2 separate regions of the Homo sapiens genome follow, and region 2 is linked to region 1. The links come from fine-mapping of genetic effects on gene expression. A gene starts in region 1. The other region holds a variant in brackets. All regions are shown on one strand. Distances are from middle to middle. Region 1 holds the start of MFSD12 (major facilitator superfamily domain containing 12). Region 2 overlaps FZR1 (fizzy and cell division cycle 20 related 1).

What was found. PIP is the estimated chance that this variant, and not a neighbour inherited with it, causes the effect.
Region 2: its variant is the best candidate, but not a certain one, in a credible set for the expression of MFSD12 in whole blood (INTERVAL, PIP 0.52).

Annotation. Positions count from the first base shown.
Region 1 is chr19:3,554,002-3,569,905 of GRCh38, reverse strand. It overlaps MFSD12 (major facilitator superfamily domain containing 12), which reads left to right and starts at 12,320. Exons shown (of 10, transcript NM_174983.5): 1 at 12,320-12,800. The coding sequence starts at 12,503. RefSeq lists an enhancer at 11,481-11,775 and silencers at 11,885-12,434, 12,475-12,544, 12,725-12,894.
Region 2 is chr19:3,530,998-3,538,997 of GRCh38, reverse strand. It overlaps FZR1 (fizzy and cell division cycle 20 related 1), which reads right to left. Exons shown (of 14, transcript NM_016263.4): 9 at 7,182-7,284; 10 at 6,903-7,087; 11 at 6,348-6,581; 12 at 5,600-5,704; 13 at 4,485-4,577; 14 at 664-4,203. The coding sequence ends at 4,162. It also overlaps a transcript of MFSD12 not described here. Among named protein-coding and RNA genes, the nearest start is that of TEKTIP1, 4.2 kb to the left of the region's middle. The variant G/A (reference allele first, on the strand shown) is at 3,612.

The DNA.
Region 1 (15,904 bases):
CGCTCTGTCGTCCAGGCTAGTGTGCAGTGGCGCGATCTCGGCTCACTGCAAGCTTCACCTCCCGGGTTTACACCATTCTCCTGCCTCAGCCTCCCAAGTAGCTGGGACTACAGGTACACGCTGCCACGCCCGGCTAATTTTTTTGTATTTTTTAGTAGAGATGGGGTTTCACCGTGTTAGCCAGGATGGTCTCGATCTCCTGACATTGTGATCCACCCGCCTTGGCCTCCCAAAGTGCTGGGATTACAGTCGTGAGCCACTGTGCCAGGCCTTTTTTTTTTCTTTTTTTTTTTTTTGAGATAGAGTTTCATTCGCCCAGGCTGGAGTGCAGTGGCGTGATCTTTGCTCACTGCAACCTCCGCCTCCCAGGTTCAAGTGATTCTCCTGCCTCAGCCTCCTGAGTAGCCGGGATTACAGGCACGTGCCACCAAACCCAGCTAATGTTTGTATTTTTAGTAGAGACGGGGTTTTGCCATGTTGGCCAGGCAGGTCTTGAACTCCTGACCTCAGATGATCCGCCCACCTTGGCCTCCCAAAGTGCTGAGATTACAGGCGTGAGCCACTGTACCCGGCCGCATCTCTTTTTAAAATTTTTCCTAGCCACACTCACACACACACACACACACACACACACACACACGCACACCACACTGCATTGGTTTGCTAGGTAATAATTACGACAAACTGAGGGGCTTAAACAAGAGAAATTTATTGTTTCACAGTTCTGGAGGCCAGAAGTCCAAGAGGAAGGTGTGGGTAGGGCTGGGGCCTTCTGAGGGCGGGGAGAGAATCTGTCCCTGGCGTCTCCCAGTTTCTGGCATTGGCCAGCAATCCTGGGCTTTTCTTGTCTTGTAGGAGTGACACCCCGATGTCTGCCTGCATCTTCATGTGGGGTTCTCCCTATGTGCGTGTCTGCACCCAAATTTCCTCTTTTGATAAGGACAGCAGTCATACTGCGTCACGGCCCACCCTAATGATGTCATCTTAACTCATTATATCTGCAATGACCTTTTTCCAAATACGGTCACATTCTGAGGCCTTGGGGATTAGGACAGGAACCTGTGCATTCTGTGGGGACATGACTCCACCCACAGCACATGCCTACACACGTACACATGTGCGTATTCCTAATAAAGACGTGGGCTGGGCGCGGTGGCTCACGCCTGTAATGCCAGCACTGTGGGAGGCCGAGGTGGGTGGATCGCTGGAGGTCAGGAATTTGACACCAGCCTGGCCAACATGGAGAAACCCTGTCCCTACTAAAAACACAAAAATTGCCAGGCACGGTGGCTCACACCTGTAATCCCAGCACTTTGGGAGGCTGAGGTGGGAGGATCACGAGGTCCACAGTTCGAGACCAGCCTGGTCAACATGGTGAAACCCCATCTCTACTAAAAATACAAAAATTAGCCGGGCGTGGTGGCGGGCACCTGTAATCCCAGCTACTTGGGAGGCTGAGGTAGGAGAATAGCTTGAACACGGGAGGCAAAGGTTGCAGTGAGCGGAGATCCCGCCACGGCACTCCAGCCTGGGACAGAGCGAGACTCCGTCTCAAAAAAAAAAAAAAAATTTTTTTAACGTGAATATATATTTTTTATTTAGTCATTTTTGCTTACAGTTGAAACTCTAGAGAATCTGCGTGAAACTAGATGGCAGCCGGCTCATAAAGGTTCATTTGGACAAGGCACAGCAGAACAATATGGAACACAAGGTTGAAACTTTTTCTGGTGTCTATAAGAAGCTCATGGGCAAGGATGTTAATTTTGAATTCCCAGAGTTTCAATTGTAAGCAAAAATGACCAAATAAAAAATGTGTATTCACAGTTAAAAAAAAAATTCTACAAAAAAGTAAAACCACAAAAATTAGCTGGGCATGGGGGTGCACGCCTGTAGTCCCAGCTACTCAGAAGGCTGAGGCAGGAGAATCACTTGAACCTAGAGGCGGAGGTTGCAGTGAGCTGAGATCGTGCCACTGCACTCCAGCCTGGGTGACAGAGCGAGACTCCCTCTCAAAAAATAGTAAATAAATAAATAAAAATATAGGCTGGGCGTGGTGGCTCCCGCCTGTAATCTCAGCACTTTGAGAAGCCAAAGTGGGCCGATCACCTGAGGTCAGGATTTCAAGAACAGCCTGGCCAACATGGCAAAACCCTGTCTGTACTAAAAATACAAAAAGTAGCCACGCATGGTGGTGCACACCTGTAGCTCCAGCTACTCAGGAAGCTGCGGCACAAGAATTGCTTGAACCTGGGAGGCAGAGGTTTCAGTGAGTCAAGATCGAGCCACTACACTCCAGCCTGGGCGACATGGCGAGACTTTGTCTCAAAAAAATAAATAAATAAATAAAGTGAGGTCCTGGCCAGGTGCAGTAGCTCACACCTGTAATCCCAGCACTATGGGAGGCTGAGGCAGGAGGATTGCTTGAACCCAGGAATTTGAGGCCAGCCTGGACAACATAGTGAGACCCTGTCTCTACAAAAAAAAATAATAATAAAAGTAAGCAAACAAATGTGAGGTCCTATTCTGCTGTGTATTATACCAGTGCCTTCATGCTGTAAGCTTCAACTGCAACCAGTTCTGTTTACTCAATAATATCGCTCAGATAAAGGGTATTTTTTACTATTATTATTTTTTGAGACATGGTGTCTCGCTGTGTCACCCAGGCTGGAGTGTAGTCATCGGATCTCAGCTCACTGCAACCTCGAACTCCTGGGCTCAAGTGATTCTCCTGCTTCAGCCTCTCGAGCAGTTGGGACCACAGGTATGCACCACCACATCTGGCTGATTATTTTAATTTTCGTACAGATGGGGTCTTGCTTTGTTGCCCAGCTCCCAGGCTAGAGTGCAGTGGCTCAGTCTCAGCTCCCTGCAACCTCCACCTCCCTGCAACCTCCACCTCCCGTGTTCAAGTGATTCACGTGCCTCAGCCTTCAGAGTAGCCAGGGTTACAGGCACACATCGCCATGCGAGACTAATTTTTGTACTTTTAGTGGAGATGAGGTTTTGCCATGTTGGCCAGGCTGGTCTCAAACTCCTGGCCTCGTGATCCTCCTGCCTCAGCCTCCCACAGTACCACAGTACCACAGTACTGGGATTACATGCCCCCATTAATTTTTTTTTTTTTTTTTTGAGATGGAGTCTCTCTCTGTCGCCCAGGCTGGAGTGCAGTGGCGCCATCTCTGCTCACTGCAAGCTCCGTCTCCCGGGTTCATGCCATTCTCCTGCCTCAGCCTCCCGGGTAGCTGGGACTACAGGCGCCCGCCACCACACCCGGCTAAGTTTTTGTATTTTTAGTAGAGACGGGGTTTCACTGTGTTAGCCAGGATGGTCTCAATCTCCTGACCTCGCGATCCGCCCGCCTCGGCCTCCCAAAGTGCTGGGATTACAGGCATGAGCCACCGCGCCTGACCTTAAATTTTTAATAGATATTAATCAACATGGATGTGTGGACTTTTCTCCACCACCCAGGGAGAGTCAGGGTGTGGTTGGTTCTCCCAGGCCACGGACAATCTCAAGCCTCCTGGGGCTTTTTATAGAGGCAACTTCATACAGGCATTGCTTAAACAGATGCTGGAGAGCTGAGAAGGCGACAGGGAAGCGGAAAGAGAGCTACTGCCCCTAGCATCCCCTGGCCCCGGGGCTGGCAGAACACAGGGCTGGTGGGACAGGGATCTCAGGCCTCTGAGGAGGGGCACCCCACTGCTGCTGGGCCCTCAGGAACTCAGGGAAGCAATCTGAGCCTCAACTGTGGGACTTGGGCAATTTACTCAACTTCTGTGCCTCAGTTTCTCCATCTGTTAAGTGGGATAATTGCTTTGTCTACCTTTATGACGTTGCTGGCTGGGATTGTCCAGGGAGAATCAAACACCTGTTACAGAAAACGCTCTAGCTCAGTGGTTCTCATCCGGGGCCAACTCTGTCACGCCAGGAAATACCTAGTAATGTCTAGAGAGATTTTTCATTGTCGGACTAGGGGGGTGCTACTGGCATCTACACGGTTGAGGCCAGAGATCCTACACGGCCCCCACCACAAAAAATGATGTCCCAAACGTCAGGAGTACCGAGGTTGGTCAGGCACAGTGGCTTACGCCTGGAATCCCAGCACTTCGGGAGGCCGAGGCGGGCGGATCACCTGAGGTCAGGGGTTCGAGACCAGCCTGGCCAACATGGCGAAACCCCATCTCCACTAAAAAGACAAAAAACTTAGCCGGATGTGGTGGCACACGCCTATACTCCCAGCTACTCGGGAGGCTGAGGCAGGAGAACTGCTTGAACCCAGGAGGCGGAGGTTGCAGTGAGCTGAGATCGCACCGGTGCACTCCTGCCTGGGCGACAGAGCGACTCTCCGTCTCAAAACACAACACAACAACAAAAAGCTCCGAGTTCCAGGCCCTGCCGTGCCAGGAGGTCACCGCGCTTCGTTACAGCTCCTCCCCGTTTTGCTCTCAGCGCAAGGACTGACCAGCATCAACGTTAAAACGTAAATCACAAGACTCACAGAATGCGCTCCTTCTGGCAATGGTAGACCAGATACTGAACAGGACCTGAGGCCAGGAGGGTCCTGGCAAAGACTGAGTCACGCAAAGACTGACTGAAGAGGCCGGGCGCAGTGACTCACGCCTGTCATCCCAGCACTTTGGGAGCCCGAGGCGGGCAGATCATGAGGTCAGGAGTTAGAGAGCAGCCTGACCAACGTGGAGAAACCCCCGTCTCTACTAAAAATACAAAAACTTAGCCAGGCGTGGTGGCAGGCACCTGTAATCCCAGCTACTCAGGAGGCTGAGACAGGAGAATCGCTTGAACCTGGGAGGAGGAGGTTGTGGTGAGCTGAGATCGTGCCACTGCATTCCATCCTGGGCAATAGAGCAAGACTCCGTCTCAAAAAAAAAAAAAAAAAAAAAAAGAGTTCGTCCTTCCTTCCCTCCCTCCCCATCCTTTTTTTTTTTTTTTTTTTGAGACTGGGTCTCACTCTGTCGCCCAGGCTGGAGTGCAATGGCGCGATCTCAGGTCACCACAACCTCTGCCTCCCAGGTTCAAGCAATTCTCCTGCCTCAGCCTCCCGAGTAGCTGGGATTATAGGTGGCCACCACCATGCCCAGCTAATGTTTTTTTTGAGATGGAGTCTCACTCTGTCGCCGAGGCTGGAGTGCAATGGCCAGACCTCGGCTCACTGCAACCTCTGCCTCCCGGGCTCAAGTGATTCTCCTGCCTCAGCCTCCCGAGTAGCTGGGATTACAGGCATGCACCACCAGGCCTAGATAATTTTTTGTATTTTTAGTAGAGATGAGGTTTCACCATATTGGCGAGGATGGTCTCAGACTCCTCATCTCAGGTGACCCACCTGCCTCGGCCTCCCTAAGTGCTGGGATTACAGGTGTGAGCCACCGCGCCCGGCCAAGTTGTGTGGTTGAAGCCTCCTGGTATTCTGTTTGGTTCGGTTACTCTCACCTCACCCCCATTTTACAGAGAGGGCAACTGAAGCTTGGTGGCTTGTCAGGGACTGCCCAGATTTGATCCTGGCTTTGCTCCCCTGCTCCCCCGCCTCCACCGTGGCCACCCTCAGATATAAGGAAGTTTCAGTGCAGCCTCAGGAACCCTCACTGCCCACCCCCCCACCTCTGTCACCCCAGGCCTGGGTCACAGAAGATCAAGGAAGCCTCTAGTACTTGACATTCCCCACCCCACCCCGAGGCTGGACTGCGGCCATCAGGACATCCGATGTCCGGCCAGGGGAGGGGGAACGCAGGCTTGGCGTCAGGGGGCTGCTGGTGATGGGCTGGGGACATCAGACTGTGAGGATCTCTCCTGACTCCTCTGTCCTACCCCGAGGGCCTGAGCTTTCATCATGCCTTCCTGACATCTCTAGACAGGGCCTTCTCTGATCTTTACCCTCACGTCCAACCCCCACTCTTGTTGGGGCACATGTCCTCTCCTGTGGCTTCCCCACGCACGCAGCTGAGGCCTTCATTTGGAAGAAGCCCTTCCTCATCTCCCACTGGACTTTTTAATCTGACTCAGTCCCACCCTCCCTCTAACCCCTACCATGGCTCCCTAGTGACCTCAGGGTAATGTCCCAACTCCTCACCTACCTTGTAACCGCCCTTCTTGGTCTGACTCCTCCAGTCCTGTCCCTGATGAGGGGAACTGGGAGGGGTCATCCCTGTCTCCCCTCAAAAGCAGGGGCTTCAGAATCTTTGGGGCTCCTCAGCAAGAGGTCAGACCTAGTTCCTGCTCACCCCACAAAGTCAGGGCTAGGAAATATTAGCTGGCTTCAAAGGGACAAAAACAGAGGCCAGGTGCCGAGGCTCATGCCTATAATCCCAACACTCTGGGAGGCTGAGCCGGGAGGACCACTTGAAGCCAGGTGGTCGGGACCAGCCTAGGCAAAATGATGAGGCCTCATCTCTACAAAAAATTTAAAAATACTTTGGGTGGCCAGGCGCAGTGCCTCACACCTGTAATCCCAGCACTTTGGGAGGCCGAGGCAGGGGGATCATGAGGTCAGGAGATCGAGACCCTCCTGGCTAACACAGTGAAACCCCATCTCTACTAAAAATACAAAAAATTAGCCGGGCGTGGTCGTGGGCGCCCGTAGTCCCAGCTACTCAGGAGGCTGAGGCAGGAGAATGGCGTGAACCTGGGAGGTGGAGCTTGCAGTGAGTGGAGATGGCGCCACTGCACTCCAGCCTGGGCGACAGGCGAGACTCCGTCACAAACAAACAAACAAAAATACTTTGGGTGGCCAGGCGCGGTGGCTCACGCCTGTAATCCCAGCACTTTGGGAGGCTGTGGCAGGCGGATCACTTGAGGTCAGGAGTTCGAAAGCAGCCTGGCCAACATGGTGAAAACCATCTCTACTAAATATACAAAAATTATCTGGGGGTGGTGGCGCTCGCCTGTAGTCCCAGCTACTCGGGAGGCTGATACAGAACTGCTTGAACCCAGGAGGCAGAGGTTGCAGTGAGCGGAGACTGCGCCATTGCACTCCAGCCTAGGTGACAAAGCAAGACTCTGTCTTCAAAAACAAAAACAAAAAAACTACGTTGGGTATGGTGATTCATGCCTGTGATCTCAGCACTTTGGGAGGTCAGGAATTTCGAGAACCGACCCACAACATGGCGAAACAGCAACATGGCGAAACCCCGTCTCTACTAAAAAATACAAAAAATTAGCCGAGCGTGGTGGCAGGTGCCTGTAAGCCCAGTTACTTGGGAGGCTGAGGCAGGAGAATCGCTTGAACCCGGGAGGTGGAGGTTGCGGTGAGCCGAGATCGTGCTACTCCACCCCAGCCTGGGCGACAGAGCAAGACTCAGTCTCAAACAACAACCACCACAACAGCAAAAGGACAAGAATGCAGAGATGTGTTGGCGCTTTAACCACACCCTGCCTCCTCCGCTGGATCTTCTCCAAAGGGAGGCGGGATTGTGCCTGATTCTCGACCTACAAAGGAGGCTGAAAAAGCAGTGGACAGTGAGGCACCTGTTCCTCCACACTCAGGTGGCATTCCGCAGCCAGCACATAAAGAGGTCACGTGGAGCTGAGTTCAAATCCCACATCTGCCTCTTGTTAGTCCCATGCCCGCCACAGTCCCATGCCCATGCCCGTCTTTGTGAAACTCAGTTTCCTTATCTGTAAAAGAGGCATGAAGGGCTGGGCGCAGTGGCTCGCACCTGTAATCCCAGCACTTTGGGAGGCCGAGGCGGGCGGGTCACCTGAAGTCAGGAGTTTGAGACCAGCCTGGCCAAGATGGTGAAATCCCGTCTCTACTACAAATACAAAAATAAGCTGGGCGTGGTGGCGGGCGCCTGTAATCCCAGCTACTCGGGAGGCTGAGGCAGGAGAATCGCTTGAACCCGGGAGGTGGAGGTTGCAGTGAGCCGAGATCGTACCATTGCACGCCAGCCTGGCGACAAAGTGAGACTCCATCTCAAAAAAAACAAGAAAAGGCAGTGGAGGGGGTCATGAAGGCTGCACACTGTGCCTCACGTCTGTAATCCCATCTCTTTGGGACCAGTCAGGGCAACATAGCAAGACTTCCATCTCTGAAAAAATTAGCCAGGTGTGGTGGCAGGCACCTGTAGTCCCAGCTACTCAAGAGGCTGAGGCAGGAGGATCTCTTCAGCCCGGGAGGCCAAGGCTACAGTGAGCTGTGGTCACACCACTGCACTCCAGCCTAGGTGACAGAGCAAGACCCTGTCTCTAAAAATAAAAATTAATAATAAAATAAAATAATAGAGCATGAAGTGGTGTAAGACCTCCTAGGGATCTTGTGGGATGAAAGGAGATGAGGAATGGGAAAAACATTAGTTTTTTTGTTTTTGTTTTGAGACTGAGTCTCACTGTGTCACCCAGGCTGGAGCACAGTGGTGCGATCATAGCTCACTGCAGCCTTCGTTTCCTGGGCTTCAGTGATCCTCCCACAGCAACCTCCGGAGTAGCCAGGACTCCAGGTGTGCACCACCACACCTGGCTAATTTTGTTGTTGTTGTTGAGACAGGGTCTTCCTCCGTCGCCCAGGCTGGAGTGCAGTGGCGCGATCTTGGCTCACTGCAACCTCCACTTTCTGGGTTCAAGCGATTCTCCTGCCTCAGCCTCCGGAGTAGCTGGGTTACAGGCACCCACCACCACGCCTGGCTAATTACTGTAATTTTTTTTTTTTTTTGAGATGGGGTCTTGGTCTGTCCCCCAGGCTAGAGTGCAGCGGCACGATCTCAGCTCACTGCAACCTCCACCTCCCGGATTCAAGCCGTTCTCCTGCCTCAGCCTCCCGAGTAGCTGGGATTATCTGCGCCCGCCACCACGCCCAGCTAATTTTTGTATTTTTAGTAGAGACAGGGTTTCACCATCGTGGCCAGGCTGGTTTCGAACTCCTGACCTCGTGATCCACCCGCCTTGGCCTCCCAAAGCGCTGGGATTACAGGCGTGAGCCACCGCGCCTGGCCCAATTTTTGTATTTTTAGTAGAGACGGGGGTCTCACCATGTTGGCCAGGCTGGTCTCGAACTGCTGACCTCAAGTGACCCCTTCACCTTGGCCTCCCAAAGTGCTGGGATTACAGGCGGGAGCCAGGATCCCTGGTCCCTAGGCTAATATTTCAAAAAGTCATCTTTCATTTCCCTCAGAGGACTCTAAAGGGGAACGTGCCAGGAGGACTCTAAGTGGGAACGTGCCAAACAGAGAGGAAGGAATTGAGGTTCTTATCTCTCCTCAACCCTTTATCTCCCCGAGTCGTCTGCCCCTTATCTCTCCTCCTTCCTTTCTAGGTTCTGTGTCTTGACCTCTTTTACCCCTCCCGCCCATTTTCAGTCTAGTTTTCATAAAACAGTGTGTGACCTGCATCACCGTGGGCAGCCGGGGCCGTGGACCCCTTGGCTGTTTGAGCCTTGGGTTTTGTTTTGTTCTGGTTTTTGAGACGGATCTTCGCTCTGTCGCCCAGGCTGGAGTGCAGTGGTGCGATCTCAGCTCACTGCAACCTCAGCCCTCCCAGGTTCAAGAGATTCTCCTGCCTCAGCCTCCCAAGTAGCTGGGATTACAGGCACAGCCACCACGCCCAGCTATTTTTGTATTTTTAGTAGAGATGGGTTTTCACCATGTTGGGCAGGCTGGTCTCGAACTCCTGAGCTCAAGTGATCTGCCCACCTTGGCCTCCTAAAATGTTGGGATTACAGGCTTGAGCCACCGCACCTGGCCTAATTTTTAAAATTTTTTATAGAGATAGGGTTTCAGCACATTGCCCAGGCTGGTCTTGGACTCCTGGGATCAAACAATCCTCTCACCTCGGCCTCCCAAAGTGCTGGGATTACAGGCATGAGCCACCATGGCAGGCCAATTATATAACTCCTGTACCCGTTCTAGATCAGGGGAGACCCAAGCTCCAAGAGGTTAAAAGACTTGTCCCAGGCTGGGCGCAGTGGCTCACGCCTGTAATCCCGGCACTTTGGGAGGCCGAGGCGGGCAGATCACAAGGTCAGGAGATCGAGACCATCCTGGCTCACACGGTGAAACCCCCGTCTCTACTAAGAATACAAAAAATTAGCCGGGCACGATGGCGGGCGCCTGTAGTCCCAACTGCTCCGGAGGCTGAGGCAGGAGAATGGCGTGAACCCGGGAGGTGGAGCTTGCAGTGAGTTGAGATCGCGCCAGGGCACTCCAGCCTGGGCGAGAGAGCCAGACTCCGTCTCAAAAAAAAAAAAAAATAAAATAAAAATAAAATTACAAAAATTAGCCGGGCGTGTTGGCGGGCACCTGTAATCCCAGCTACTCAGCAGGCTGAGGAAGGAGAATCTCTTGAACCCAGGAGGCGGAGGTTGCAGTGTTCTGAGATCGTGCCACCGCACTCCAGCCTGGGCGACAGAGCCAGACTCCGTCTCAAAAAAAAAAAGACTTGTCCCAAGTGGAGCAGCAGAGAATCAGTGGAACCAAGTCTGGATCCAACGATTCTCCTTCCATACTGCAAGGACCTTTTGTTTTGTTTTGTTTTGTTTTAGAGCTGGGGTCTTGCTGTTGCCCAGGTTGGAGTGCAGTGGTGCAATCATACCTCACTGCAGACTGCAAGGCCAAATATACTGCTGTAGGCCGGGCGCGGTGGCTCGTGACTGTAATCCCAACACTTTGGGAGGCCAAGGCGGGTGGGTCACTTCAGTTCAGGAGTTTGAGACCAGCCTGGCCAATATGGGGAAACCCCGTCTCTACTAAAAATACAAAAATTAGCTGGGCGTGGTGGTGGGTGCTCGTAGTCCCAGCTACTCGGGAGGCTGAGGCAGGAGAATCGCTGGAACTCGGGAGGCAGAGGCTGCAGTGAGCTGAGATTGCAACACAGCACTCCAGCCTGGGTGACAGACGGAGACTCCATCTCAAAAAGAGAGAGAGAGAGAGAAAGAAAGAAAGAAAACTGCTGGAGACCCGCCCGATGCAGAGGCTCATGTTTGTAATCCCAGAGCTTCTGGAGGCCAGGGTGGGAGGCTTGCTTGAGACCAGGAGTTTGAGGTCAACCTAAGCATCATAGTGAGACCCTGTCTCTCCAAAATTAAAAATACAAAAGTTAGCCACATGTGGTGATGCGTGCCTGTAGTCCCAGCTACCTGGGAGGCTGAGACAGGAGGATTACTTGAGCCCTGAAGATTGAGGCTGTAGTGAGCCATGATTGCACCAATGCACTGCAGCCTGGGCCACAGAGCAAGACCGTTTCTTTCTTTCTTTCTTTCTTTTTTGAGGCGGCGTTTCACTCTTGTTATCCAGGCTGGAGTGCAATGGCGCGGTCTTGGCTCACTGCAACCTCTGCCTCCTGGGTCAAGCGATTCTCCTGCCTCAGCCTCCAAAGTAGCTGGGATTACAGGCACCTGTCACCACGCTCGGCTAATTTTTGTATTTTTAATAGAGACGGGTTTCACCTTGTTGGCCAGGCTGGTCTCAAACTCCTGACCTCAGGTGATCCGCCCGCCTCGGCCTCCCAAAGTGCTGGGATTACAGGCGTGAGTCACCGCGCCCGTCTCAAGACCCTGTTTCTGAAATAAATAAAAAGAGGAAAGAAGAGAAAATGCTGCTGGAAGGAGTAGGGCCTGAGTTAGGGGGAACCGCACACACCCCCTGGAGGAACTTGAAACCCTCAGTCCGGTGACCCGTTTGTGGGAGGACGTTGGTTGGACGGGGAGGGTCGCGCGCACAGGCCTGGGAGTCACAGACGCCTGACTCACTGCGAGCCTCGGGCAACTCTGTTCCTCGCCTGTAAAATGAGAGTGAAATTTGCGTCACCACGTGGGGCTCTTTGCAGGCAACGCTCGTTAAAGGCCAGCTGGTACTATTATGTTGATTACCCCCATCATTACCGTTAGTAACCAATTAATTAGTGTTGTTGCGTCCTCTCCGCGCCCGATCGCGTCTCTCTAGGCCGGGGAGTCAGCGGACCCCGAGGCCAGCTCGGGCTCAGACCTCCCCCCAACCCCAAATCCAGAGCCCGTCCCACTCGCTCCACCCCGGCCCGCAGTGGGCTGTCCAGCTCCGGGTGGACTGGGGTGGTGCGGGCCTGGAGGCCGGGTCTGGGTGGGAGCCGGCGGTGCCCTCTGGTCCATTTCCTTCCCCAGTCTATGGGGGTGCCGGCCACTCCTGCGGCGCGCTCGGGGTTCGCCCTCATACCCGGCGGGCGCTAGGACCGCGTGGGCGCCCGTCGTAGAGGCGGAACGAGCCCTGCGGCCACGCCCCTCTCCTCTCTCCTTGGCGATTGGCTGCGGTTCCCCGGGGCGCGGCTCCGATTGGCTCAGGCACCGGAACCTCCCCGCCCTGCCCCGCCCGGCGCAGTCGCCCGGCTCTGGGGCCCGGCGGCTGCAGAGTCGAGCGTGGGGCGGACGCGGCGGACGTGGGTGAGGGCGCGGCCGTAAGAGAGCGGGACGCGGGGTGCCCGGCGCGTGGTGGGGGTCCCCGGCGCCTGCCCCCACGGCACCCAAGAAGGCCTGGCCAGGGTACCCTCCGCGGAGCCCGGGGGTGGGGGGCGCGGGCCCGGCGCCGCGATGGGCCCGGGACCCCCAGCGGCCGGAGCGGCGCCGTCCCCGCGGCCGCTGTCCCTGGTGGCGCGGCTGAGCTACGCCGTGGGCCACTTCCTCAACGACCTGTGCGCGTCCATGTGGTTCACCTACCTGCTGCTCTACCTGCACTCGGTGCGCGCCTACAGCTCCCGCGGCGCGGGGCTGCTGCTGCTGCTGGGCCAGGTGGCCGACGGGCTGTGCACACCGCTCGTGGGCTACGAGGCCGACCGCGCCGCCAGCTGCTGCGCCCGCTACGGCCCGCGCAAGGCCTGGCACCTGGTCGGTAAGCGTCCCGGCCCCGCCACCTGTCGGGCAGCCCCTCCGAGACTCCGCGACCCGGGCGCCTCCTCCCTCTGACTCACCACCCGCCGTCTGCCTGCCTCAGGATCGGAGTCTCCCCTCGGTCTGTCTGTCCCGTGGCCCGAGCTTCCCTGCACTGTCTGTCCACGGCCTTAACCTCCCCTATGTATCTGTCTGCCCTATGAGCTGAGTTTTCACCCCTCTGTCTGTCCCCTGGCCCGAACCTCCCCTGTCTGTCTGTCTGTGCCCATGGCCTGAGCTTCCTCCATCAGTCCCACCACCCAGCCCCCTCTCTCTGCCTGCCTGGGACCTAAGTCTCCCCTGTTTGTCTGCCCCATGAGCTGAGTTTTCACCCCTCTGGCTGTTCCGTGGCCTGAGCCTCCCCCGTCTGTCTGACTACCCAGTGGCCCCTCTGTGGTGTCACTCCTGAGCCTCCCCTGCCTGTCCCACCATCCAGCATCCCCCGTCTTTCTGCCCCATGGCCTGAGCCTCCCCCGTCTGACTGTGCTGTGCCTCCCCCATCTGTCTGACTGTGCAGTGCCTCCCCCATCTGTCCAACTGTGCAGGGCTTCTCTATCTGCCTGAGCCATGAGCCTCCCCCATCTGTCTGTTTAACTGCCCCGTATCCCCTCTGTCTGTCCCTTGGTCCAGCCTCCCCTGTCTGCCTCAGAGCTGCTGTCTGACCTGCGGGGCCCTCACCATCTGACTACATGACTTTCTAGTGGGAATGCCTTTGTTTGTCTGAGCCCCCGGGCCACCCTGAACCCTCTGGAGGGTTGGTGGTGACTGCTCAGCGCCTCCTTTGTCAGTCTGTCTAGCCTGAGCTCGTCTATTAGGGTGACCAACTGGGACAGCTATGGCTGAGGGACAGTCAGGCCCCCTAGAGCCTCCTCTCTCTCTGTGTGTTCTGCCAGGGCAACCTGGTGCGTCAGCAGTTTGAGGGTGCTGCTCCGGGAGTTGAGAGTTGGGAGCCGCCTGGGTGGGACTGGAGGGTCAGGGGTCTCTGCCCTGTTCTTGCATTGCCTCTATCTGTCTGGCCAGGGTCAGGGACCCCCTAGGTCTGGGGGAGCTGCCCTGATTAGAGAGGGCTGTTGGGAGGGCAGGAGGCTGGCGTCATGGGCTGGGTCACCCTGCCCCAGTGCCCATCGATAAGACTGCAGGGCTGCCTCCCAGCGGCCCTCCTCTCCCCTCCCGGACCCTGGGCCTGAAGATTAGCCGGCCTCCTTCCCTGCTCTTCTTGCCCTCACAGAAGTGCCGGCTGCGTCCTGGCATTTGGGACACATGTGGCATTTCAGCAGGCAGGGCCAGGAATCCTGCTCAGTTCTTGGAATTCCAGGTGGCAGGAGGGGCAGGCGGGTGCCTCCTCACCCTTGGGAACAATGACTGGGATGGGTGGTTGGACCCAGGATCTGGGTGATGACATTTTTTGCAAGAGGCAGTGGATCTCCAGTGGTCTGAGGGTGGCAGGCTCCGCAGCAGGCACAGCTTGGGGACTGGAGTTTCATGTTTCCTATGTCCAGGCTATTCCTGGGGTACCTGAGGCGGCGGCAGACAGGGAGGGGACCGGCTGTCCCTTCCTTTGTGGTTACGTTGGGATTGGTTGCTGAGCGGAGCCCAGGGCCCCAAATGCCTCTTTGATCATAATAGTTGGATAAGCTCTTTGACAGTCGCGTAAGATAATTTCTGGGCGGGCCGGGCACGGTGGCTCACCCCTGTCATCCCAGCACTTTGGGAGGCCTCCTCACCTGAGGTCAGGAGTTTGAGACCAACCTGGCCAACATGGCAAAACCCCGTCTCTACTAAAGTACAAAAATTAGCCGAGCGTGGTGGCGCACGCCTGTAATCCCAGCTACTTGGGAGGCTGAGGTGGGAGAATCGTTTGAACCCGGGAGGCAGAGGCTGTAGTCAGCCAAGATCGCGCCACTGCACTCCAGACACAGCGAGAGTCTGTCTAAAAAAACAAAAAACAACAACAACAAACCAAAACAAGAAAACAAACAGAAACAGCAACCGAAGGCTTTATGTTTTTCCAAAGCAGACCTCAGGGAACCAGGTGGTCCAACCGGACACCAAGGCGTCCACCGTCACCCCTCTTCCCCGCCTCGGGGAGGGCACCTGCCCTGGGAGCTGAGAGGTGGGGGCCACCTGGGTGGGCCTGGAGGGTCAGGAGGGTCTGTTGGGAGCAGAAGCCCAGGCAGCCGCTCTTGATGCCTGAGCAGGTGACTTGAGTGAAGGTTACCCTGGCAATGGCACCCACTTCTGTATTTCACCCCCAAGTCTGGGGCTGGTGGCTAAGGACTCACTTTGCCCTTTAACAAGTCCTGGGGAGCTCCCCCACAATCCCGAGACGACCCTCAGAATCAGACACAAACACTCCTGTGAGTGGGCAGATGGCACAAATGGGCTTCAGAAGGAAGGACATTAACTTTGAGGTTTTGACGGATGGGTAGCAGTGTGTGGAGGGGCGCATTCCAAGTAGCAGAAACAGCTGTGGAAAAGGTAGGAACAGTCCTCACTTTGAAGCTGCGGAAGCAGGAAGTGGTTCAGAATAGACGGAGCTTTTGCTGGTGCCACACATGAACTCTATCCTCACAGCAGCCTGTGAGGCAGGAACTTTCTTTCTTTTTTTTTTTTTTTTGTTTTGTTGTTGTTGAGACAGAGTCTCACTCTGTCGCTCAGGCTGGAGTGCAGTAGCGGGATCTCGGCTCACTGCAACCTTCGCCTCCTGAGTTCAAAGGATTCTCGTGCGTCAGCCTCCTGAGTAGCTGGGATTACAGGCACGTGCCACCAAAGCCGGCTAATTTTTAAATTTTTAGTAGAGGCAAGGTTTCACCATATTGTCCAGGCTGGGCTTGAACCGCTGACCTCAAGTGATCTGCCTGTCTCAGCCCCCCACAGTGCTGGGATTACAGGTGTGAGCAACCACGCCTGGCCATGGGCAGGAACTTTCACTACCCTTCTTTCTCTTCTTTTTTTAATTTTTTATTTATTTTTATTTTTTATTTTTGAGACGGAGTCTTGCTTTGTCACCCGGGCTGGAAGGCAGTGGCGTGATCTCAGCTCACTGCAACCTCAACCTCCTGGGTT
Region 2 (8,000 bases), 27 kb after region 1:
AGTGTGGGTGGGCAAGGCCAGGGCCACTGCCAGGTGGGGTCCGTGGCCCTGAGCCCCCAGCTCTATGCACCCCCCACCTGGGGTCTGGCTTCTCCATCTCCACACCCCCTTGAGGGGCTTCTGTCTCCCCCTGCCCCTTCGATCGCAGGAGGCAGTGCCTGGCCGGGGTCGCAGGCACCTGTCACCCCAGCTCCTCACTCCTCACCCACTCACATCCAGTCCGTTTGTAAAATACACCCAGGATGAGACCTGCACGCAGTGGCTCACAGCAGCACGATTTGTGACAGCCCGAGGCGGAGAACACCGAACACCCAGTGAAGGTGAGGGGATCAGCACGGCGCCGCCACCGTGCTGGAACGAGACTCAGCCACAAGGAGGTGCGAAGCTCTGACCCAGGCCACAGTGCGGATGCACCTTGAGGATGTCACGCTCAGTGAGAGACACCAGACACAGAAGGGTACGCTGTGATCCCACTTCTATGAAATGTCCAGGACAGACCAATCCACAGAATCAGGGAGAGGATTCGTGGGTGCCGGGACTGGGGAGGGGGACCTGGGGGTGACTAGGTGACATAATGGGGACAGGGCTGCCTTCTGGGTGATGAGAATGTTCTGGAATCAGATGGGATGGCTGCACGGCGTGGTGAAGGTACTGAACGCCACCTCACTGTAAGACGGTAGATTTTGTATTTTACCACAATAAACAAAACAAAACAAAACCAAACCAAACCCAACAAACATCCAGAAACCTCCTGCCCTGCCCTGCCCCTCCTCTGGCTGGGCCCGGCCTTGGGTGGGGGCGGAGCCTGCACCCTGGTCTCCGCTTCCCCTGCCCTTGTCAGGTCCCCACAGATACGACCCTGCCTTTCCCATCTGGACACGCACCCAGGAGCTCCACTCCCTCGGCGTAGGTGCCCAAGTCCTCCCTGAGGCCCACAAGGCCCTGCACGCCCTGCCCTCCTCTCCTCACTCTGTTCCTCCCGCATACCAGGTGCCGTCCTGCCCCAGGGCCTTTGCATGGCTGTGCCCTTTGCCTCTCACCCAGGCGTCCCTGCCTTCTCCAGCCCTGGCTGAAATGCCAGGCTTGTGGTGAGCCTCTGATCCAAGGCCGCCCTTCCCCAAGGCCCCCTCCCCACCCTTGTGACGCCACCTCCTCACTTCCTCATAAGCTTCTCTGTCTCTGGGCTGTGTCCCCCATGCCAGCTCCACATGGGCCAGGTCTGCTCGGTTTCATCATCTCCAATGCCCAGGATGGGGCCTGCCCCAGCTCCTTCACCCTCTTCTCAGGCACCGCGCAAGAGCGAGCCTCAAAACCACCTGGGGCCTCCTGGCTGCCAGGACCCCCACAGCCTCCCCTGCAGCCCCCGGCCCCCCGGCCTCCTGGCTCCCTCAGCCACTTCCCAGCCATTCCTCCTGTTCTCTCCGCCCAGACCCCGGGGAGGCACCAGCACCCCCTGGGCCAGGCTCCTGCCTCCTGCACCTCTCATCGCAGAACCTATGGCAGCCTGAGTTTTTCAATTCTCTTTCCCTCTCACTGCACCAGCTACATTCCAGGATCAACAGAAAAGTTGCAGCCCGCCCTGCGGGGCCCTTGGTCAGCCTCCCCCTCCATCTGGGCGTCTCCCAACCACTGCCAGGGTCGCCCCAGGAAGCGATGGCCCCACTGGCCTTCGTCTGCCTGTCGGGTGGAGCTGACAGCAGAGGCACCTGCCCCAGCGCTGCTGAGTGGCCCCCGTGCCCCGCAAAGCCTGACGTACACTCCCCTGGGGCCCCTCCACCTCCTCTCAGCTGTCCTGGGCCATGGGGAACCAATTCCCCCATTTCTACACGAGCCCTGGCCCATCATCATGGGACCCTCCCACCACGGCCTTCACCCCCCTTGCTCTGTCCCTCCTGGCCCCATCTGGCCAGCCCTGGGGGTGAACTCAGCCCAGCAGTGCCCACCCTCCCTCCCTGATGGTGTCAACCGAGCACCTCCTCCCTGGAACAGGGCCGTCCAGCTGGAGCGCAGGGACTTGCCTGGAGTCCAGTCCTTGGCCCTGCAGGATTGTGGCCGGCGCCCTGGCAGACGGGCCTGGGAGGCGTCTCTGCGGCCTTCGAGGGCTGAGCTCCCCATCTGTGAAATGCAGGCCTGGGAAGCCCCTCAGAAGCTGCTTCTGCAGCTCCAGGGCCAGATGGGGACTCTAGGGCAGGACCGTGTGACCCCACCCGAGCCGGGGACCTAGAGCCAGCCAGTCCCGGCCACACATGAATCCACGTGTTTAATGACAGCGTCACTGCATTACATGAGAAACAAGGCTGGTCTGTCCTGGGAGCTCCCCCACCCCCTAGCATGGGCAGAACCAGCCCCAACACAAACCTCACGCCGTCCGCCTGGCCCTGCGGCGGTTCCCAGTCCCAGGAGGAGCCTCTGAAGGCCACTGTGGGTTGTGCACTGAGCCAGCCAAGCCCTGACGCCCACAGCGACAAGGCGGCTCTTTGGCAACTGCGGGCAGGGGCGGGCATGGGCGAAGGCAGGGTTGGTTTTCTTATTTAAAAACCTTGAAACAGTAAGACCGTGACCACTGGAAATCCACACTGCCACGTGCACCAGCACCCCCTGCACAGGCGCACAGTGAGGGGTCCGCGCCCCACCCAGACAGAGGTGGGGAGAGTCTCTCCAGTGAATGTGGAAGATCGACCCGCTTGAAATGACGGGGCTTTAAAACCAGGACCTCATCCCCCAGGAGCAGTGGGTGGGTCCTGGCCCCTCCCCGTCTAGCCTCAAACATTTCCAGGACTAGTCAACAAAAACACAAAACAAATCCAAAGAAAAGTCACAAATACATATGTACACATGCACGCCAACCCCACTGGGGACAGACACCAGGATGTTGGGATGTGGGGAGTGGGGAGTGGGGGTTCCCAAGCACAGCAGGGTGGTGGGTGGGACCCTCCAACCCCAGCCCGCCCCACCCTCTCCACGTCCCCACCGATGAAATGGGAAGGGGTGGTGGGGGGGTGAGGGGGCAGTGCTCAGCTCAGGCCCCACTCCCCTGCCTTGCCTCCCTCCCTGCCTGCTGTGCAGCCTGGGAGCATGAGACAGAGAAGCAGAGGAGCCTGGGAAGCTTCTCGAAGGATGGAGGGCGCCCACCTCCTGGACCCCTTGGGTCTCCTTGGCTTCCCCACGGCTGTTGGCGCTGGTGGACAGGACAGGTGAAGACACAGGCAGCCTGGGGGCGGGGGCCACACCGCTGCTGGCCTCCACAGGACCCAGCCACCCAGCAGGCATGGGGGACGCAAGTCTTGCGCAGGGAAGGAGGACGCTGGCCCTGTGAGGGCACGTGTTGGCGAATGCACGAAGACGTGGCATCTGTTGTGCTCCTCTCCAGCCAGGGCAGTGAGCAGGTCCGGGTTCAGTTCTCCTGGGGTGATAAGTCCAGAGCAGACATCCTCCTCCAGTGTGAGGGTGACGCTTGGCCAGGATGCACAGGCCCATCTGAAGCCCACTGACCGCCGGGCGATGGCCATGACACAGATGCTTCCAGAGAGACTGCTGCTTCGAGCAGTGACAGCAGAGGTGGCTGCAAGGATGCCGTGAAGCCCAGGTGGGGACTGTCTCTTGGATCCACA[G/A]GCTGGCTCCGCCAGTGGCCCCGAGCCACCTGCCCAGGCCTACATGCCTTGGTCTGGCCTTGGGGCTGGTCTTGGGTTTGACATGGTGGGGTGCAGCCATGAATGGGCAACCGGGGTCTCAGGCCCCCACCAATCAGCCCTGGCGTCTGGTGGTCTGTTCTGTGCAGACGTGGGCAGTTCCAGGAAGAGCATGCGGCTCCGGTGGGCAGGTGATGAACAGACGGAGGCAGTGAGGGTCCCAGGGGGCATCCGTCGCTCTGAGTACAGACGGTCTGAGCCGGGACCGTCCAATGTGGTTCTCGCCCTTTGGGAAGGGAGACAGAGCCCCTGCTGCTGAGGGTCCCCGACCACGTGCCCACCCCAGATACTGGTGGACATGGTTCACAATCAGGCATTTAATGAGACTCCAGGATCCTCCAGGCCCAGCTCCCCGCCCGCCCAGCCGCCTTCCTCGGGGGACAAGCGCTGGGAAGGCAGAGTCCATGCAAGCTGAGGAGCTGGGGTCCTCCGACTCTGGACAGCTGGTGTGGCACGGTCCTGCCCGGCAGGTTTACCGGATCCTGGTGAAGAGGTTGAGCACAGACACAGACTCCTGCAGACACATGGGGATGGCAGATGCGCTGAGCCGCAGGCCCAGGGAGGAAGCTGCCTGGAGGGTCCCCAAGGCTTTGGGGCTTGGTCCTGAGGGGCTGGGAGGTGCCAGTTCAGCCTCGGCCTGCCACACTGCCCCGACACATGACCCAGAATTTGAGGTGAGGGAAGCTCGGAAGTGGGGGAACCCAGAGGAGGGTACGCCCGAGGACAGTGGGGACAGGGACGACCCTGGGACAGGCTGGGGCGGGGGCGAGTGGCGCTGATACCGACCCACTTTACCTTTGTCGAACGGGTTTTGCTAAAGACGTTCCAGAACCTCAGGGTCTCGTCTCCAGCACCAGTGACGATGGCCTCCCCATCAGGGGACATTGCCTGTGGACAGGAGGGAAGCACCCCATGTCTCTGGGCCTCTAGGTGCCTCGGGACAGTGCTGGGGGACTGAAGGAGAGGGGAGCAAGGTGTCGGGTGGCTGGGCCCCCCAGACTCTGGAGCCAGGAGGGAGGGGCAGGCTGGGGCCACCACAAGCAGAAACCAAGGTTGGAGCCTTTTTTTTTTTTTTTTTTTTAATTTTAAGACGGGGTCTGGCTCTGTCACCCAGGCTGGAGTGTGCAGTGGGGCAATCCTGGCTTACTGCAGCCTTGACCTCCTGGGCTCAGGTGATCCTCCCATCTCAGCCTCCTGAGTAGCTGGGACTACAGGTGCACACCACCACACCTCATTTAAAAAAAGTTTTGTAGAGATGGGGTCTTGCTATGTTGCCCAGGCTGGTCTTGAACTCCTGGGCTCAAGCGATCCTCCCACCCTGGCTTCCTGAAGTGCAGGGATTACAGGCGTGAGCCACCGCACCTAGCCAAGGTTGGAGCATTTTTGCAAAAACACAAAGGACGCCCCCTTGCAAGAGGGGCTCATCAACTCTGCACAGATGAGGGACTGTCAGATGCGCGGATGAAAGCACAGAACATGTTTTTCAGGGAAGAAACAAAATCTTGGCAAGTGAGGGCACGTGGGGCCAAGGACGCCTCCTGGCCCCCATCCAGCCACGTGCATACAGTTACTGTGTAGGACGTTCACAGGGTCATCTGAGTGGTCAGCTGTGAGTTGGTTTTGGCTTTCCTCTTCACCCCTCTTTATGGGGAAAATAAACAAATGAAGAAGCTAAGGTCCTCCAGGAGGACAGGGCCTGCACCTGCAGGGCTGGGGAGTTCGGTAGAGCCCATTCCAACGCTGGCAACACAACCAGCACCAGATGCCCTGCCGGCCCCTGCTGCTGGGTCCCACGGGGTTTTAGATCTGCACACCATCCTCCCTAAGAACACAGGACAGGGTGCTCTGGGGTGGCCATGGCAGTTTGTCCAGAATCCCGGGGCACCTTGAAGTGCCTGGCGTGAACTCACCAGGTACAGCACGCGGTAGGAGTGCCCGGTCAGCTTGGCCACCTGGGTCAGGGAGGGGTACTTCCAGACAAGGATCTGGTTCTGTGAGTAGCCGTGCGTGCTCACCTGGAGGGCGGAGGGGGCGCTGCGGTCGGTGAGGGGCAACGAGGCCGGGTGCTATGCCTGCTGCCTCACATGCACCCGCCTGAGCCCATGTGAGAGCTCAGAGCCGCCAGCCAGCCCAGGAGGAGCAGGGGATGCTGGGATGTGGCTCTGCCACCTGAGTCTGTCTAGGAGGTGTGGAGGCCACAGGTGGACCCCTCCACCCACCGCCAAAGGCTGGAGCCCAACAAGGACCCAAACGGGGCCCACAGCCCCTCTGCCCCACCTGCAAGTCACCCCCGAGACTGTCCTGGTGACACGCCCGGAGTGGCTGGAGCAGGCCAGGGTGCTCAGTGGAGCCCGCTTCATCCTGGGCCTCCCCTCTAAGCAGAGGCAGCCATAGGAGCTCCCCGGCTCCTCACAGAGCCGCCAGGTGTGGCTGCGATGGGGGCCCAGAGGCCCCAAGTCTTGCCCCAGGTGAGGCCCTGATGAGGCCCAGGGGCCTTGCCCCCCACAACTCCCTGCCTCCCCGCTCGGCCTCCCTCGCCCATCTCCCTTCAGAGCGACTCTGACCCATCTCCCCACAGGCTGCTCTCAGGTGGCAGGTAAGGGGCCAGCAGGACGCACATCCTGAGGCCTGGTGGGAGGCCGGGCCGCCCGTGCTCACCAGCTCGTTGGCGTGCTTGGACCAGGCCAGATTGCACACTTGGGAGCCCGTGTCGATACACTGCAGTGGTTGTCCTGTCAGCGTGTTCCAGAAGCGGATACAGCGGTCAGCTGTGCCGCCCCCCGAGGCCAGCAGCCCGTGCTGATGTGGGGACCAGGCGATGGCCTTCACGGCCGCCAGGTGCTCCGTGTACTGCTGCACGGGGCTCAGGCTCGAGTGATTCCAGACCAGCAGCTGGGGGACAGGGGCTGTGAGGCCGGGGCTGTCCCAGCCCTGTGGTCCCATAGGCCGGTCCTCACAGGTGTGACGACCTGCCCTGGCACCCCACCCCACACTCCTCCTGCTGCTCCCTCAAGGACCCCTGGGGGCACACACTCGTCACCCTGTGCCACAGGGCAGGACTGGCTGAGCAGGAAGGACAAGCCTGGTGCCCTGCTGATGGCTGTGGAGTGGGCCCCGCGCCCGCGCCCGCCCCAGCCCAGGCTCTTCCGTTCCTGCCAGTGTGAGGGGTGCGGCTTCTGGTGAAGGGGAAGCCCAGGCTCTGGGCGGGGGTACCTTGTTGTCGTTGCCCCCCGAGGCGAGGAGCTGGTGGTCTGTGGACCACTTGAGCCCGCACACCTCCTGCCGGTGGCCCTGCAGCCGCCGCTCCGACTGCAGTGGCGGGGTGCGGATGTCCCTCTGCAGGATCATGCGGTCGCGGCTCCCGGACGACAGCTGCTCAGCATTCCAGGCCAGCGCCCCTGGAGGCCAGGTGGAAGCGGGGGTGAGCCTCTCCTGCCCTCGCGGAGCTGGGGCCTCAGGGAGCTCACCAGCCATGGGACCCGGGCTCCTCACCGACGCGTGCCGTGTGGCCCTCCAACATGGACAGCTTCTTCCCTGCGGCTGCGTCCCAGATCTGCACGAAGCCCTTGTGTGTGCCCACCGCCACCAGGTTCCCCTAGGATGGAAGGCATGGGCAGAGCACCGGTGTCAGGTCTGGCCCGGGGACTGTGCCCGTCCTGGCGTTGGTCGCGCCAGGCTCTCTCCTCACCAGGGCTCTGGGACGGTTTCCCTAACGACTCTCGAATGCACGTCCCTTCGGAAGAAGCATAAACCCCCCTCAGTGCATGCTGGGGTGGCGGGCACACCCCGCACACACTGCGCCTGGGTTTCTCAGAGTCCAGCCAAGACTCGGTACGTGGACCTTCCCACATGGACATTTCACACAGAGGGAAGGAGAAACTGCAGACACTGAGCTCCAGGTTCCACACAGGCCCAGGAGCTGGGCAACATGCGTTGCTGTCTGCAACTGACTTTGAGGCACATGAAAACCTAAGATGGATGGAGGGAGGGTGAGCGCACACGCCTGGACACAGTGAGCGGTTACGAGTGCTAGGGGCAGCCCTGGGCAGCTCTGGGTGAGGGGCACAGACCCTCCCCATGATATGCTTCAAAGCTGCTGCTGAGATGTTTTCATCATAATCTAAAATGGAACTAAAGCCCACTCGACCCTGAGTGGAAAATGGAACTCCAGGGGAGCGAGTCCCAGGTGGGCAGGTCCCATGGAAGGAACTGGGGCGTTATTTCCCCACTGGACCTGCCATCCTTTCTAGGGGCCTGGTGGGTGCCTGCTCATCCCTGTTACTCCCTCTACCAGGACCACACTAAGGCCGG